Linked DNA regions of Homo sapiens: region 2 is linked to region 1. A link means that fine-mapping ties the variant in region 1 to the expression of a gene that starts in the linked region. Tissue or cell type: whole blood. Region 1 holds a variant in brackets; the other region holds the start of a gene. All regions are shown on one strand. Distances are between the middles of the regions.

What was found. PIP is the estimated chance that this variant, and not a neighbour inherited with it, causes the effect.
Region 2: PPFIA4 starts here. The variant in region 1 is fine-mapped to the expression of PPFIA4 in whole blood (INTERVAL, PIP 0.95).

The regions. Positions count from the first base shown.
Region 1 is chr1:203,099,304-203,107,410 of GRCh38, reverse strand. No RefSeq gene overlaps it. Among named protein-coding and RNA genes, the nearest start is that of MYOG, 17 kb to the right of the region's middle. The variant T/C (reference allele first, on the strand shown) is at 4,642.
Region 2 is chr1:203,023,270-203,031,376 of GRCh38, reverse strand. It overlaps PPFIA4 (PPFI scaffold protein A4), which reads right to left and starts at 4,886. Exons shown (of 30, transcript NM_001304331.2): 1 at 4,748-4,886. It overlaps TMEM183A (transmembrane protein 183A), which reads right to left. Exons shown (of 8, transcript NM_138391.6): 8 at 6,529-8,107. RefSeq lists an enhancer at 4,439-4,960 and a silencer at 4,787-5,096.

The sequences.
Region 1 (8,107 bases):
CAGTTCTTAGAAGGAAATTTATATTCATATTATTAGAAATAAAGCCTTAATACATACAATAGAAATGAAGCATGAAAATCAATAATCAAAGCATCCATTTCAAGAACCTATTAAAGAAGAGCAAGTTAAACCCCAAAGAAATGCAAGAGAGAGTATAATAAAGATAAGAGCATGAATCAATGAAACAGTTGGAAAAAAAAAAACACAGAATAAAAAAATCAACAAAGCCAAAAGTTGATTCTTTGTAAAGACTAATCAAAAACTTTTCAAAGACAAAACAGAGAAAACATATATTCCAACATCAGGAGTTAAAAAAGGACCATCACTACAAATCAGATCCTACAAATGTTAAAAATGTAAGGGGACGTTATGAAGAACTGCCAATACATTTGAAACTTTTCACAAAATGGAAAAATTCTTGAAATACACAAGTTACGAAAATTAACACTAAGATAAATAGAACTTATTATGTGTCCTATTTCTAATGAAGAAATTAAATCTGTAATTTTAAAATTTCCTAACTCTAGGACTACATGGATTCCCAGTTGAACTCTTCTAAGTATTTAATAAAGAACTGGGCATAAATTTTCCACAAATACTTCAAGATAATAGAAAAAGAAAAACACTCCCCAATTTGTTTTATGAGGATAGTATTTATAAATGTGGTACTAAAACCTGACAAAACTTTGTTAAGAAAGGAAAATTATATATCAGTCTCCCTCATGAACATCATTGAAAGTCTAAACATAATATTAGCTAATCAAATACAATGATATAAAAATTATATATAAAAACGACTTGACATTTAAAAGCCAATCAATGTAATTCACCACATTTACAGAATAAAGGAAAAGAATGAATGATCTCAATAGATGCAGAAAATGCATTCGATGCTTATTTATAGTAAAATACTTTCAAAACTAGAAGTAGAAAGGAACTCCATTAATCTGATTTTGTTAAAATGTTTTTAAAATAACACCAAATATTATGCTAAGTAGTAAAATATATAAAGATTTCCCCTTTGAAATCAGGAACAAGATAAGGATGTCTGCTAATATGATTTCAATTCAACACTACACTGGAGATATAGCCAGTACAATAAGGCAATACAAAATTAAAATGAATAAGAAATGTAAAACCAAAAATCTGTCATTATTAGAGAATAACATGACTGTGAATATAAAAAGTCCAAAAGAACTTATATATGTAAACTATTAAAACTTAGAAGTGCATTTACCAAGGTCACTGGATATATGGCTAATATTAAAAAGTAATTGTATCCCTATATGCTAGCAATACACAATTTTAAAATAAAAAACTTACAGAGCCTATATATATCAGTATCAAAAATCATATACCTAGGAATAAATCTGGTGAAAAATATTAAAATTCTGTACAATGAAGACTACAGGGCATTACTGAGAGATATTATAGAAAATCTAAACACATAGAGAGATACACCAAATTCATGGGTTAAAAGACTCAATATGGTGAAGATGTTAGTCCTTTCCCAAATTCTAGGAGTCTTTTTGTTTGTTGTTTGCTTGGTTGGTTTTCTGGTAGAAATTGGCAAGCTGGTTCTAAATGAAGAAGACAGTCTTGAAGAAGAACAAAACAACTGGTGCAAGGGTAGATGGGAGACAATATAGTCCAGAAATGCATATATATAGTTACTTGATTTTCAACGAAGATATCATCGCATTGCAGTGGGGAAACAATCATCTTTTCAATAAATCATATGATGTCGGTTGAACATCCATATGATGGGAAAAAGTAAATGTTTATTCCTCCACCTCAAACCACATACAAAATTCAGTTCCAGGCATATGAAGACATATGTGTGAAACATAAAACAATAAAACTTCTGGGAGAAAACAGAAAAACAGTATCTGCGTGACCTTACAATGACCAAAGATTTAACAGGAATGAAAAGCATTAACCCTAAAGTAAGAGACTGACAAACTAGACTTCATTTAAATAAAAATTTTCTGTTCACCAAAAGACATGCTTAAGAGAGTGAAAAAGCAAACCAGAGGAGAAGAAGACATTTGTAGTTACACACACACACACACACACACACCACATTACAAAAGACTACCATTAAGAATATCTGAAGAACTTCTGCAATCAATGAGAAAATGACAAATGATCCAATAGAAAAATGGGCAAACTACTTGAACAGGAATTTCACAAATGAAGAAATCTGAATGACCAGTAAACATCTGAAAAAATGTTCAACTTCATTAGTCATCAGGAATATTTAACTTTTAACACAAGAGATACCATTTTATTACCTCCAGATAAACAATTTAAAAAATTAAGTCTGACAACACCACCATTCCTGGAAGTATAAGTTGGTGCAACCACTTTAGAAAAGAATTTTTACACTATTTAGCAACATTTAAAATGCATATCCTCTGTGACTCAGCAATTTCACTTCTATATATTATATATACCCTAGAACAACTTTTCTGTGTAGGAAATCAAGAGACATGAAGTAGAATACTCATTGCAGCATAGTAATTAGTACTCCCAAACTGGGGAAAAATACTTTCCATTGGTAATAAAATTGAGGAATAGTTGTGGTTTATTTATACAATGGAATTCTGCACTACAATGAAAAGAAAATGAATTGCAACACACACAACACAGATGAAAGAAGTTAGTCACAAAAGAAGATGTATATACTTTGACTCCATTAACAAAATATTTAAAAACATATAAAATCAAACCACATATCATTTAAGGATACAAATAAACAATAATAAATCTACAAAGAAAAGCAAGGAAATTAGAAGCATGAAATTAACAATGACTTAGCTCAGCTCAAGGAAGGAATGGGTAAGATTATTCAAAGAAAATGCTGCCAGGTTATCTTTCTTAAACCGGATTGGCAGGGATATGAATGTTGTTGGATTATTTTATACATTATAATTTGTAAATATCTCCTTCTATTTAGTAAAATTTGGTACAACAATTATAACTTTATGGATGTCGGATCATCTGGCTCAAGATGGAAAAAAACATGGCTGCCTCTGTACTAGAATTCATTAACCCAGCAGACCATCAGTCATCGGCATTGTCTGCAGGAAGCCCCTGATGACATGTTTTTCCTAAGAAGAGGGAATGTCCTGGCCATTCTGTTTATATAGTGTTATTAGTCAATTTGGGCTGCCATAACAAAATATCATAGGCTAAGTGGCTTTAGCAACAGAAATTTATTTTCTCACAGTTCTGGAGGCCAAAACTGAGATCAGTGTGCCAGCATGGTCCAACTGTGGTGAGGGCTTTCTTCCTGAATTGCAGATAGCTGCCTTCTCCCTGTGCACTCATCTGGCATTTTCTTGATGTATGCATGGCCCGTGGGTGCAGACGGGTAGTGAGGGAAAGAGAGTGCGTGTGCACGCAAGCTCATTAGGTCACTGATCCCATCATGAGGGCCCCACACTCATGACTTCATGTAATCTTAATTACCTCTCAAAGGCCTTATTTCCAAAGACCATCACACTGGGGGTTAGGGCTTCAGCACATGAATTTTGGGAACACAAGCATTTAGTCCCTAACATATAGCCACCCAGATTAGCTAATTATCACTTTGGCAGATTGAGAGGGGCCAAAGTGCATAGGACTTATCAAAAGTATGTTTTCTTAGAGGGTGAGAATGACAGTGAGGAAAGAGCCCAAGGATTCTCCCCTCAACCCCCAACGAGGTTGAGGATTTGCTTGGCTTTGAAACTTTGAAGCCCCTCTGCTGTGAGTGGTGCCTGCCTCTGGTACCCTCATGTTTTCCGTGCACATTTCATCTGCCTGGCAGCTGCTGGCCCTGTCCAGCCAATGGCTCAGGAGGGAGCACACCGCTTCTGTGCAATTTCTTGAAATGGGCACTTCCTTCTAAGAGAACTGTTCCCCAGAGAGTTCCTCGACATCTGCAGTGATGGAGAGTCCACGCACAGGCTTTGGGATGGGGGAGGCAGCACAAAGGGAAGAAGCTTTAAATTCTAAAGCAGAGAAAACAAAACTCCTGCCAGAAGCAGGGGAAGATGGGGAAGGAGGCAGGGATCTAGGAAGCTTCTGCTTTGGTCTCAGTATTGGGGTTTCATAGCACAGATGGCCAGGGTTATTTATAACTTGCAACAGGCAGAGTTGAGATCGGTGAAATGCAAGAGGCTTGGCTGACAATGGTTGGGGCCAGGGTAGGGATTGAGACCTCCAGAAGCCCTCCTAGAATGCAGGACTTTGTTTTAGGGATGGGGGTACCACCATGGAAAAGTTATGGAGCCAAAGCCCCCTCCTACAGGCTAGATGAGAAGTCTTCCAGAGAGCTACTGCTTTTAGGAATAATCATAGTCCCATTAATAATAATAAATAATAGCTAACATTTTATTAGCTGACTGGGTGCCAGGCAATAAGCTAAGTGCGTTATTATCCCCATTTCCAAAATGAGAAAACTGAGGCTTGGTGAGGGTAAGGAACCAACCTAAGGCCTCATATCCATAAGTAGTGAAGCTCTCTATCTGCTCTGTATGGGAAGGAGGAGAGGCCAAGGGCCTAACATCACATCTATGTCACAGCTATGTCACATCAGCCCTTTGCCACCCAACAGAGGCAAGATCACTGGGGTAGAAAATTGGGCAAGGATCT[T/C]TGATAGGGGGGCAGTGACAGGAATCTGGAAGGATCTGGGGCAGGCAGAGGTCCAGAAGGGAGACTCTAGACAACGTGTGTGTGTGTGTGTGTGTGTGTGTGTGTGTGTGTACCTAAGTGATCACCTAGGTAAAGGTGGTGTGATTATATGTAGAAGATATTAAATGAATATTTCCTGGCTCTTGAAGACAAGGCAGGCAGGCTGCTAAAGTCCAATGTGGCTTACTCCATTCTGCCATCTGTCACTTTAGACAAGGACTTCCTCCTCCCTACTTCTCAGTTTCTCCTCTTTAAAATGATGCAGTTGGCCTAAGATTCTTCCCAGTTCTGATAATTTGTGCATCTGTGATTTCACTGTGGTTAGCACATGTGGAGGAGGGGGAAGGCTGGATGTCAAAGGTCAAAGGTTGGCTATCAACCACCAAGGCTGGCAGCCAAGCCCTGGCAAGGACAGCCAGCAAGATCAAAGCTAAAGGAAAACCAGTCAGGAGGCACTGTCTGCTCCCCAAGCTCGAGCCCAGGAGCAGCATGTGCAGGGAGTGAGGCGCCACAAGCACAACTGATCCTGCCAGCACCCACTCCCAGGGCTCCAGGCACTGGTGCCAAGTACCCCACCAATGGGTGGATGGAATGCTCAGAAATTCACAACTCCAGGAGCAAGGCTGTCTGTCTCAGGATAAACAAAGCCCCAGGCAACTTGATGCAGCTCACCTACTCTTCCGGCTGCAACAACCTTTTTGAAGGTCAAGTCATCCAGCCCCCGGAAGCAGTCTACAGTTCTACGTTCCTCTGAATTACATCCTTGTTTTTTCCCAAGGTCAAAAGGGCCAGTAATTCACCCCTGGTCATAGAGCACGTGGCTATTCACAGGATTCAGATCTCTGAATTCTCACTCTGTGCCACAGAAGGGACTTGCTTCAATGACATGGACTTTATTGCTTAGTTTCACTACTCAGTGAGTATGTAGCGAATATCCACAATGTGCACTTGCTGAGTATCTACTGTATACACACTCTAAAGAGGAGTTGTCACCAAGGTTGTCCAAGGTCAACCTTAATGGCTATAGATCTTAATGGAGAAGACTGTCCACTGACTTTGGAGTAAGCCAGGCTGGGTTCTAATCCTGCCTTTATCTTCCAATTGCACCACAGCAAATTTCTTAACCATACAATATGATTTGGCTCTGTGTCCCCACCCAAATCTCATGTCGAATTGTAATCCCCACCTGTTGAAAGTAGAGCTTGATGGGAGGTAATTGGATCATGGGGGCAGTTTCTAAGGGGTTAGCACCATCCCCCTAGTGCTCTCTCGTGATAGAGTTCTCGTGAGAACTGGCTGGGTTTTTTGTTTTTTGTTTGTTTGTTTGTTATTTGAGATGGAATCTTGCTCTGTTACCCAGGCTGGAGTGCAGTGGCATGATCTCGGCTCACTACAACCTCTGCCTCCCAGGTTCAAGCAATTATCCTGCCTTAGCCTCCCAAGTAGCTGGGATTACAGGCACCTACCACCACAGCTGGCTAATTTTTGTATTTTTAGTAGAGACGGGGTTTCACCACATGTTGGCCAGGCTGTTCTCGAACTCCTGACCTCGTGATCCATCCGCCTCGGCCTCCTGAAGTGCTGGGATTACAGGCATGAGCCACCGCGCCCGGCTGAGATCTGGTTGTTTAAAAGTGTGTGGCACTTCCCCCAATCCGCCTGCCACTATGTGAAGAAGGTGCTTCCTTCTCCTTCACTTTCCGCCATAATTGTAAGTTTCCTCAGGCCTCCCAGTCATGCTTCCTGTACAGCCTGCAGAACTGTGAGTCAATTAAACCTCTTTTCTTCCTAAATTACCCAGTATCAGGTAGTTCCTTACAGCAGTGTGAAAACAGACTAATACACCATGACTCCCAGTCTGAAAACTGGTAATAATACCTAGCTCATAGACTCATTGTAGGGACAAAATAGTTAATGTGCCTAATGCATTTATCACAGTACCCAGTAAACAGGAAGGTCCTAAATGATGATGCAACTGTTGATGATGGCATGGTGATGATGGTCACATTGTCCCCCTGAGGCAATCCTACTCTGGACCCAGGTACTTCCTTGACCATCCAACCCCTACCAGGTGACATTACATGAAGAATGCAGCTGGCTCTAGGTTCAAGAATTTAAAACAAACAAACAAACAAACCACAAAACCATTGCTCCTTGCCCTTGGACCAGGAAGTATGAGAGCTCACAAGCCAACAAACAAACAGCTGCTTTCAGAAATCTAGTAACAGCCAAGAAAGATGAGGCCCGTGTTGTGGCCGCAGCCCTCCTGAAAGGGCAGGGTAGGAGGACCCCGAATCAGGGAAGGACAGGTTCCTGAGCTCCTATCCCAGGCTGGCCCCTGACCCACCTCCCAATGCCTCTACTTCCTCACCTGTAAGCTCAGGAAAGCAAACCACAGGTGAGATGAGCCACAGCTAGAAATCTGAAGTCAGGGCTTTGTCTCCACTGTGGGGGAGCCAAGATGGGCTGACGATGTGGAACAAGTGAATCACTAAATGTCTGGCTGCATGAACTCCTTCAGTGGTGTGAGGACACAAGGGTTGGCACTCTAGAAATGGGAACAGCCTGCTGATAAAAATCCTTGTGCCTGGGAAGCAAGTCCACCCAACCCTGCCCCTACCACTAGGAAGCCATCTGCTTTCAGAAACAGAAAAGCAAATGGGTCCTGACTTGGGCTGGCCCAAGCCCCCACAGAAAGGGGAATGCAGACAGGCAGGGTGGCTCAGGGAAAACACTCCAGGCACCAGGGTCTGGAGGGTGGAACACAGTGTTCCCACGGCCCGCTATGCAGGGAACGCAGCAGATGGAACTGCACTGACTCCAGGGAAACATTTGGTTCCTTGTCTCACACCAACTCACTGGAAAGGATGGTAAGGAAGGCCTGAGAATAGACAAACAAAAGAGAAGGTCAGGGAAAGGCAAGGAAGCCAAGCCAGGAAGCTGAGCAGAAATTTCCTCAGATCCTTCCAGAGGCCCTGAGCAGGTGGTGACAAAATGCCAACACCAGAAGGAACTTTCTAGAACAATAAATCCAATTCCCTTATTTTATGGATCAGGAAACAGGTCCCTAGGGAAGTCAGCACTGTGCAGTGGAAAAAGACTGTAGAGTCAGGGAGATGTGAACTCCATAGCTGTGTGATTTGGTGCAAGTTTATTAACCTCTCTGATCCTCAGGTTTGTCTTTTGTAAAATGGGGACCCTGTCATCTCCACAGTCATGCCGTGAGAAGGGAGTGAGGTACTCAGCACAGAGCAGAGCCTCAATAAATACCGGCTTCCAATTCTCAAAGTCACATACGGGTTAATGGCAGAGCTAGAACTAGAATCCAACGTCCGAACTTCCCACACTCCTTACTCCAGTTACAGAAAAGAGTCAAAGAAAAGACATGCCTGTGATGTGCCACTGGGGGTGGGGTAGGGAGAGGGCA
Region 2 (8,107 bases), 76 kb after region 1:
GAAGCCAGTGCAGTGGTAGTTCATGCCTCGGGCATAAGCCCTCGGTGCAGTAGCACTTTGGAAGGCCAAGGCAGGGAGATTGCTTAAGCTCAGGACTTAGAAACCAGCCTGGGCAACATGGCAAAACCCCATCTCTACTAAAAATATGAAAACTAGCTGGGCATGGTGGCATGCACCTGTATTCCCAGCTACTCGGGAGACTGAGGTGGGAGGAGCACTTGAACCCAGGAGGTTGAGGCTGCAGTGAGCCATGATCATGCCACTGCACTCCAGCCTGGGCAATAGGGAGAGAGAGGGGAAAAGGGGACCGAGAGAGAGAGAGAGTATATGTTGTATGTATGTCTGTGTATAAAGGTATGGTCATAAGAATGGCATCCTGAGAGCACAGGCATGAGAGCAAGTAGGTATATAGACTCATGACAGTGTGTAGATGTGTGTGGTCATAAGTACATCAGGGATCTTGACTGCATATAATTGTGGTCATGAGAACACATGTGTGGGTACACAGCCATGACAGTAAATGTGTGTGGTCATACATGCATAAGCATCTGGGATTCATAACATCATACATGCTCCCAGGAGCACATGGGAGCTGTGAGAGCTTGTGCAAGTATGCGTGTGTGATCATGAAAGTGTATTGCTGCTCATGAGACAGCGTAAGTCCACGTGTGGCCTCGAACCTATGTGAGAAGGTATAATCGAGAGAGGAGGGAGGGATGGGGTGATACTGAAAGAATGAAAGCTCCACTTACTCCAGGGGCTCTGCCCCAAAGTAGGACCAAAAATTTGGGGCACTCCACAACTAGCCTAGTTTAAGCTGAAGTCATGGAACTGGGGCCATCCCATCTTTCTACCTACCCCCACCCATCAGGGATGCACTGCACCATCTCCCAAGCCCAGGCCTCCATGTCCATGAGATTTCTGGGGTCACCCCCCTGCATGTCCCAAAATGCCCACTCCTCACGGAACAGCTCATGCAAAGCTCCAGGCCCGGCCCCACTCCCCAGGCCTCCACTCCCAGCAGCGCTCCTCTAGGCCAAAGGAGAGCCATCTTCTGAAGCAGCTGCTGAGGCCCTCTCCCATCCAGCCTCACCTCACACCTGGACTCAGAAGGGCTCTCGGAGGTCACACAGGCCACTTCCCACCCTGTGTGGGAGTTCCTTTCACAACATCCCTGGCAGCCCAGTCTTGACTTGATTATCCTTCAGGAACAAGCAGCTCACTATCAAATGAGGAAGGCTTCATCGTTCTAAGGAAGCTTTTTCTTAAATTGAATGGAAAACCCATCTCTCTTTGAAATGACAGTTATCTATCTGAAGACAGTGGCCATGAAGGCACATCAAGTATATATCTAACTTATGAGAATTCAACTCTTAACAGCTGGGCGAAATAAGCAATAAAGGCCTCTAAAATCAAATCAGCTATTTCATCTGACACTTCACTACAAAATCATATTGTGCGTATGCACTCTTTGTAAAATCACTCTACAGTAGTATATACAGTATCTATTTACATAATATAGAATACATATATACCATATCTATACATTCATATTACTGTTCAGGGTTATAAACCCATATGCCATGCTTTATGAGAGACTGGGAAGTTTTCACTTCATCTACTGCCCACAGAATCTAATGCCCCCAAAGGGATGTAACACCAGTGTCCTGGGTCCCCAGAGGCTTCGCTGCTCCAGGTTAAATATCTCCAGTGGCAAGGAGGCCCTGCTTCATGGAACTCAGGGGATCAGAAGACAGACCTCTTCAATTCAATCCAATGATCACTTACTGAGTGATTTCCATGCATCCGATACTGTTATGAAAGCAAAAGACATGTAAGACAGAAAGTTCACAGGCTACTTGAGAGAACACAGATACACATGTAATCACTGGAGAGCAGTACAGAGAAGCATGTGACCAAACACTCAGTCTCTGGCACAGCCAGGGGGTCAGTGCTGAGCACCACGTGGAGTTTGACCAACGGAATTAACTGGTGGCAGCTTCTCCTCCAACTCTCTCAGAACGAAGCATCCCCAGCCAAGGCCTCTCAGCCACCAAGTGAAAGGCAGATGGCTATTCCACGCTACAGCTGACTTCACCTGGGGGGATGGAGACACCTCAAGGAGGCCCCGAGGTTGCAGCACCCGAGCCTCTCTGAAGGCAGAGCAATGAGCTGGGCAGCAATCGTGCTTCTTGTGCAGTGGGCCAGCAGCCAGGCAACAAACGGGGAGGTCTCAGGCTCAGACCAGCCCTGGAGTCTCCTGCCATCCTCGCTTAGAGCTCCTTCCCCCACTGCTGTTTCCCCCACCAGCCCTGTCCCTGTGACATTCTCAGTTGCCTCAGGCCCCTCCCAGTACAGCAAATGCAGAGGGTCCCCTAGAAGCAGCCCCTTCCACAGTACATCAAGGACCATGGTCCCTCTGAATCCTCCACTCTGCTGGCCACCCGAAGTCCCACGCTCCTGTGAGCCAGCACCGTATGCCCTCCAGAGCTAATTATAGGTCCGTGAGCTAGCAGGCCAGAGGGGGACAGATGGTGACTTCATGTGGCTGCAATACACACTTGTCCCTCCCTCTGACCCCACTCCCTCCCCTCCATTTCTCTCAATTCCCTACGTAGGACCCAGACTTTGAGGCAGCTTTCACTCCCTCAGTCCTCCCTGCTCCTCACCTCTCCTCCTCTCCAACACATGCACAAGCACACACACTCACACACGCGTGTGCACACACACACACACCCCATACCACTCAATTGCCACACCTTGTTTCTACAGCAACTCACCTATGGAGCCAACACAGTAGGGCCTAAAGCCCAGGGAAGAATGTCCTTGGCATTCGAAGGCCTCGGCTAGCTGCCCATATCTTAAAACCCCCTTAACACCCAGCTCCCCAGCCCTGCTGAGCCTTCATCCCCACCTCATCACCACCACAGCCTGACTACTCATTCTCTTGCCTAGCTCTAGCTCTGCCATCCTCAGAGGCTCTGTGAGGACCTATAAGCCATCCCTGACAACTCTTTCCAACTCTAAGATTTCAGCAATCAACTCAGAGATGAGACCCAGGAGCCTGGCTGCCTGCCATGCCCTGCCCCTCCAGCCCTCCTTTACAGCCCAGCAGCCAGACCTCATGCACCACACGGTTCTGACATCACGACATGCTCAGCAGCACAAACCCCAACTCCACTGGATGCGAATTCCCTTCTACACCCTCCTCCCCCACACTATTCCATCTTCCAGAGATGGCGTCTCCCACTACACAGAGTGTCTAGGACATTCTTGGCCCCCAATAACCATTTTGTCATTCATTATCTCCTTACTTTGAGATACCGTTTACCCCACGAAGCCTCCTCAAGCCTCAGGACAAAATCTGAGAAAATAACCAAGGGAAATCATTCAAGCTGCCCTTTTGCTTAGGCAGCTTCCCTGGGACTACCTGGCCAGTTAATAGTGGTAGGGGGTGTGTAGGTTGGAGTCTAATTCAGACAGCTGTTTGAAAGCACGTGGACACAGTTCTTTCTTTTTCTAATCCAACAGCAATGTAACAGAATGGGGATGGGCGGTGAGAAGGGTGTTAACAGAATACCTGCTATGTGTGCCTCCTATGTGTACCTTTCAGCTACTCCGTGGCTGTAAATTGCCTTCAGAAGACCTAGCACCGAGCATAGTATCTGGCAGATAGTAGGTGTCCAACAAATGTTTGCTGGATGTTGAGCAAAGTACTAGGTACCAGATCCAAGAACTCTGGAAAGGACTATGGGAAATCCCTGAAACCTGGCTCCTGGAGGGGACCCTTAAGCTCACACCAGGAGGGGATCTCCCTGCGAAGCAGCGCCTCCTTAACCACTTGCTCTCCACACAGAACGGCCCCAACTCTCCTGCTCCTCTGATGGAAACTACCAGCACACCTCTCCTCAAAGGTGACATCAGCTCCTAGTGGCACCTTGTCCTGGATCCCTCCTCCTTCTCGAAGAAAACCACCTACACCATGTCTCCAAGTCCTCCAGCCCGACCTCTCTCTTCCCACCCACCATCAAAACCTCAAAATCTGCGCTGGAAAACATCCCTACTGCGTGGACGTAAGTCAGCGCCCCACTCCCACCCTCCCAGTTCAGGCATCTCTATTCCAGCCCTCTTTTCCTGTTGCGCCCACCCCTGTCCCCACCCCCACCAGGCCTCGGGTTGGCCGCTCCTTCCACCCCACCGCCCTGGCACTGCGGAGATGGGGGCATCTCTGGCACAGACTGAGGCTGGCAGTTCGAGGAATGGAGAGCTAGCGACAGGAACAGGGGTGCTATGAGCAACTCGGGAAAGATTAAGACCCCCGCGAAGAGCGAAGACCTCAGCCCATCAGAATCGCGTCCCCAAAGGAGTGGGGTTGGCCCCGGAGCCGAGAGGCGCTTTTTCTGACTCTCCTGGAGGGGAAATGGGGGCGCAGTCTGCTCCGTTCCCACCGGGAGACTCGCCAACTCGGCCCCCTCCCCTGAAGCCGATGGAGCAGAGGGCGCACTCCACGCCCTCCCCGCAGATCAGGCATCGCCCCTATCCTCACCCCCAAGGGCACAGGGCACCGCAAAGGAGGGCGAGGGGCGGCAGGGTAAGCAGTACCGACGCCTGCCGGAGGTAGCACATACGGAGTCAAAAAGGGCTGTTTCCCGAGGTGCGATAGACGAGACCCCTCCCCAAACTGTCGAGGGGAGCTGGAGATGGGGAAAAGACGCATCCTACCCCAGTCCAGGCTCTGGGCGCTCACCTGCCTGCAAATGCCGAAGGCCAGGCGGCTAGGCTCGGAAGCAGCAGGGAGCCGCCCCCGACCCGTGCAGCCCGACACGTCCTAGAGCCGAGCCGGCGCCGAGGTAGCTGCAGCCTCCGCCGCCCAAGCGCGCGGCCGCGGGGCCCCGCCCCCTTCCTCCGCGGACAACCCCCCCCGGCTCCGCCCCCTAGGCGGGGCTGGGCTGCCGCGACCGAGGCCACGCCTCCCGCCCCCAAGCGCCTCGGGTCCGGGCACGTGACGAGAGCGCCGCTTTGAGGCCGCGCGCCATCTTGGTTCAGCCTAGGAGGTGGCGAAGTGCCAGAGTTTTATTCCGCAGAAGGGTCTCAGGGCCCAGGAGTGCTGCCCACATTCTGCCCCTCCCTCTGAACTCGCCCTTGTTCCTAGTCTAACAGCCCGTTCCCTAAATTGGCCTTAGTCTCGGCCTTGTAATTGTCAAGTTTGTCACCTTTCACGCTTGCTCTCCTGCCCGTTCCTTGCTTTTCCTTTGATCGCACCCATTTTTTAAGTGGGGAAACTTGATATCCGGATACTACATCTGTAGTATGCTCTTCAGTGAATTGTGTCGCTTGCCTTCAGGCACCTGGCTGTTCTAACACTGTTACTACAAAATGAAGGGTTTGTCTATTACATATACATAGTATGAAAACAAGTCTCAAATGCCAAAATTCCTGACTGACAAATTTTAGCTAAGCCTCTCCATTTTCCTGAATTGCTCCCTTACCCTGCCCCCTGTGGCTATTAATGCATCTTTTCCATCTGCTTTGTGAAGTTTCATCACAGTGCCTACTCAATCCTTTACCAATACCCAGTAAGCACCACTAAAAGTGTGAACAATTTTTATATACATGCAATGTGTTCATGTGTGTGTATTTATAGATATATACACAGCATGTTCTATATCAGCAGCAAATGCTATAGTTGAGATCAGTGACACATACAACCTTCTCTCATTTATCTTCCACCCAATATATTCACCATTTGGCATAATTTCCTTGCGTCTCTTTGAAGACAGGGAAATCTTGAGTAATTCTGATCTGAGGGGTGGGTAAGTGAAGCTAAATCTGTGACCCTTGAACAACAGGGCCTTCAACTGCACAGGGCCAGTTGCATGCAGATTTTCTTCCTTCCCCGCCACCCCTGAGACAGCAAGACTACCCCTCCTCTTCTTACTCGTCAGCCTGCTCAACATGATGACCCACTTAATGAACAGTAAATGTATTTTCTCTTCTTTGATTTTCTTAATAACATTTTCTTTTCTCGAGCTTATTATAATAAGGTATATACTACATATACAAAATGCACATTAATCAACTGTTTATGTTATCAATAAGGCTTCCAGTCAACAGTAGGCTATTAAGTTTTCGGGCAGTCAAAAGTCATAGCAGATTTTCAACTGTGTGAGGGTCTGTGTCCATAACTCTCACAGCGTTCAAGGATCAATTTATGTTGCTTGACAGAGCAAAATCACAGTATATAACCTGTAGTCCAGAAAGTTCTAATTCTTCTTCGGGTGGTCTGGGGTCCTCACCAAAAGGAAATCCCTGAGACACTTCACATCCTGTCACTAATAAAGCATGTATCATGCTAGAAACGGCAACTCAGCCAATGCAGAGGAAGGCTGAAGCCAAGATAACGACTGGTAACACATTTTACCAAATGTTTGTCAATATTATGCTGAGAGAGAGCTGAGGCAGTATCTAGTACTGTATCTGTCACCATACCATGGAATTTGACACAAAAAACTCAGAGCTGAGTCAGAATACAATTATTAAGCCAAATTTATTTCACCCCCTTTTTAAAGGTACTCCTAAGCGGGGAACAATGCACCAAGACACTCCTGCTCCATGGCATCTTTAGTTCAGGCAACCTGGCAGGGACTGTGCTTCTCCCCTCCTGCCTCAAAGAGGCAACTTTTAATTGTAGAGATCTGCAAAGTGCTCATTGTCCTTAGGTTGTCTGTTATCACTCAAATGCCCAAATTCTGTTTTTGACTGACCCAGGCTCACTCTGTGTGAACAGTTTTAATACCACCCTCAACGTGGGATAAGGTTAGCTGTTAGCAGCAAAATTAAGCAGATGCTTTCTAGGAATATTCCTAGGGAAGATGGTAAAAAAAAAAAAACAAAAATGTGAATTTAGCAGTTTGCCTCACAAGATTTTCACTTTTAAAGAATACTGTCTTAATGCCCACCTCCTGGCAATATCCAGGTAATATCCAGCTCACTGGTTAATTTTGGATGGTGGAGGGTGGGAGGAGAGACAAGCAGCAAGGTTTTCTCCTTAGCAAAACAGAAAAACGTGATTCTCTTCTCAGAGTACACCTGAACAATAGGAGTCATCTAAACAACAGGAGGACATAAGCATTTCTGCATGGACGGAAGACCAGGCTTCTGTAGGCACACAGGATGACAGCAGAAGCAGCACAGTACAGGGCAGAGCAAAGTCGCTAAGTGCTTATGGTTCAAGAGGCTGGTTTCAACATGCAATGCATTTTGTTAATGACGTTTTAGCCTAATAAATGCCCTTCTAACAGTTCAAGGAAAGGGTCACTATCCTTCCTGAAATAACTTTCTTGGTTTTACATTTTATTCAGAAATACATATTTAAAAGATCATTTCATCAATCTTCTAAACTTTTTTGGCTGATTAGAATAACATATACCACAATCAATTTTTTACTTACCCTTTTACTTTTTTTTATCTATGTACACTCTGCCTACTCCTTTTTACCACCATCTACCACAAGAAAAATGAGACTCATCTTTTAAACTTATGGTACAACAAAAAGACCTGGGTCAGAATCTTGGCTCTGCATTTACTGGTGTTATAGGTACAGTCACTAATTCCGTTTTCTCAACTATAAAATGGGAATAATATCACCTACTTTGCAAGACTGTGAGAAGTAGAGATACTATGTAAAGTTCCTAGTATAGTACCAAGGGTATAAAGTCATCATCACCATTATCAGCCTCATGCAAAAAAATACCTAAAATCCAAAACTGCCAAAAGAAAATGTATGCAATAAATATCACAAATTATTTTTTAAAAAAGATACACAAGTCAATATGGTAAGATTCTGAAAACCCTGTCACCTGCTTTATTTCTGGAGAAGGGTAAAGGGAGAAGGGAAAATATTCACTTGAATTTGAGGGGCAGCTAAACTGGAAGCAACAATTTCAGGCCTCTAAGGTTCCTCTGATCCATAAGGGAATGCTGAAACTTCCTTGTTTGGAGATTCAAAGAGTTTAATTTTTCCCTACAGCAAGATCAACAATTTTCACTGGGATAAAAGAATAAAGAACAAACTCAATAGCACCAAATGGGGTTTTAACACAGAAAA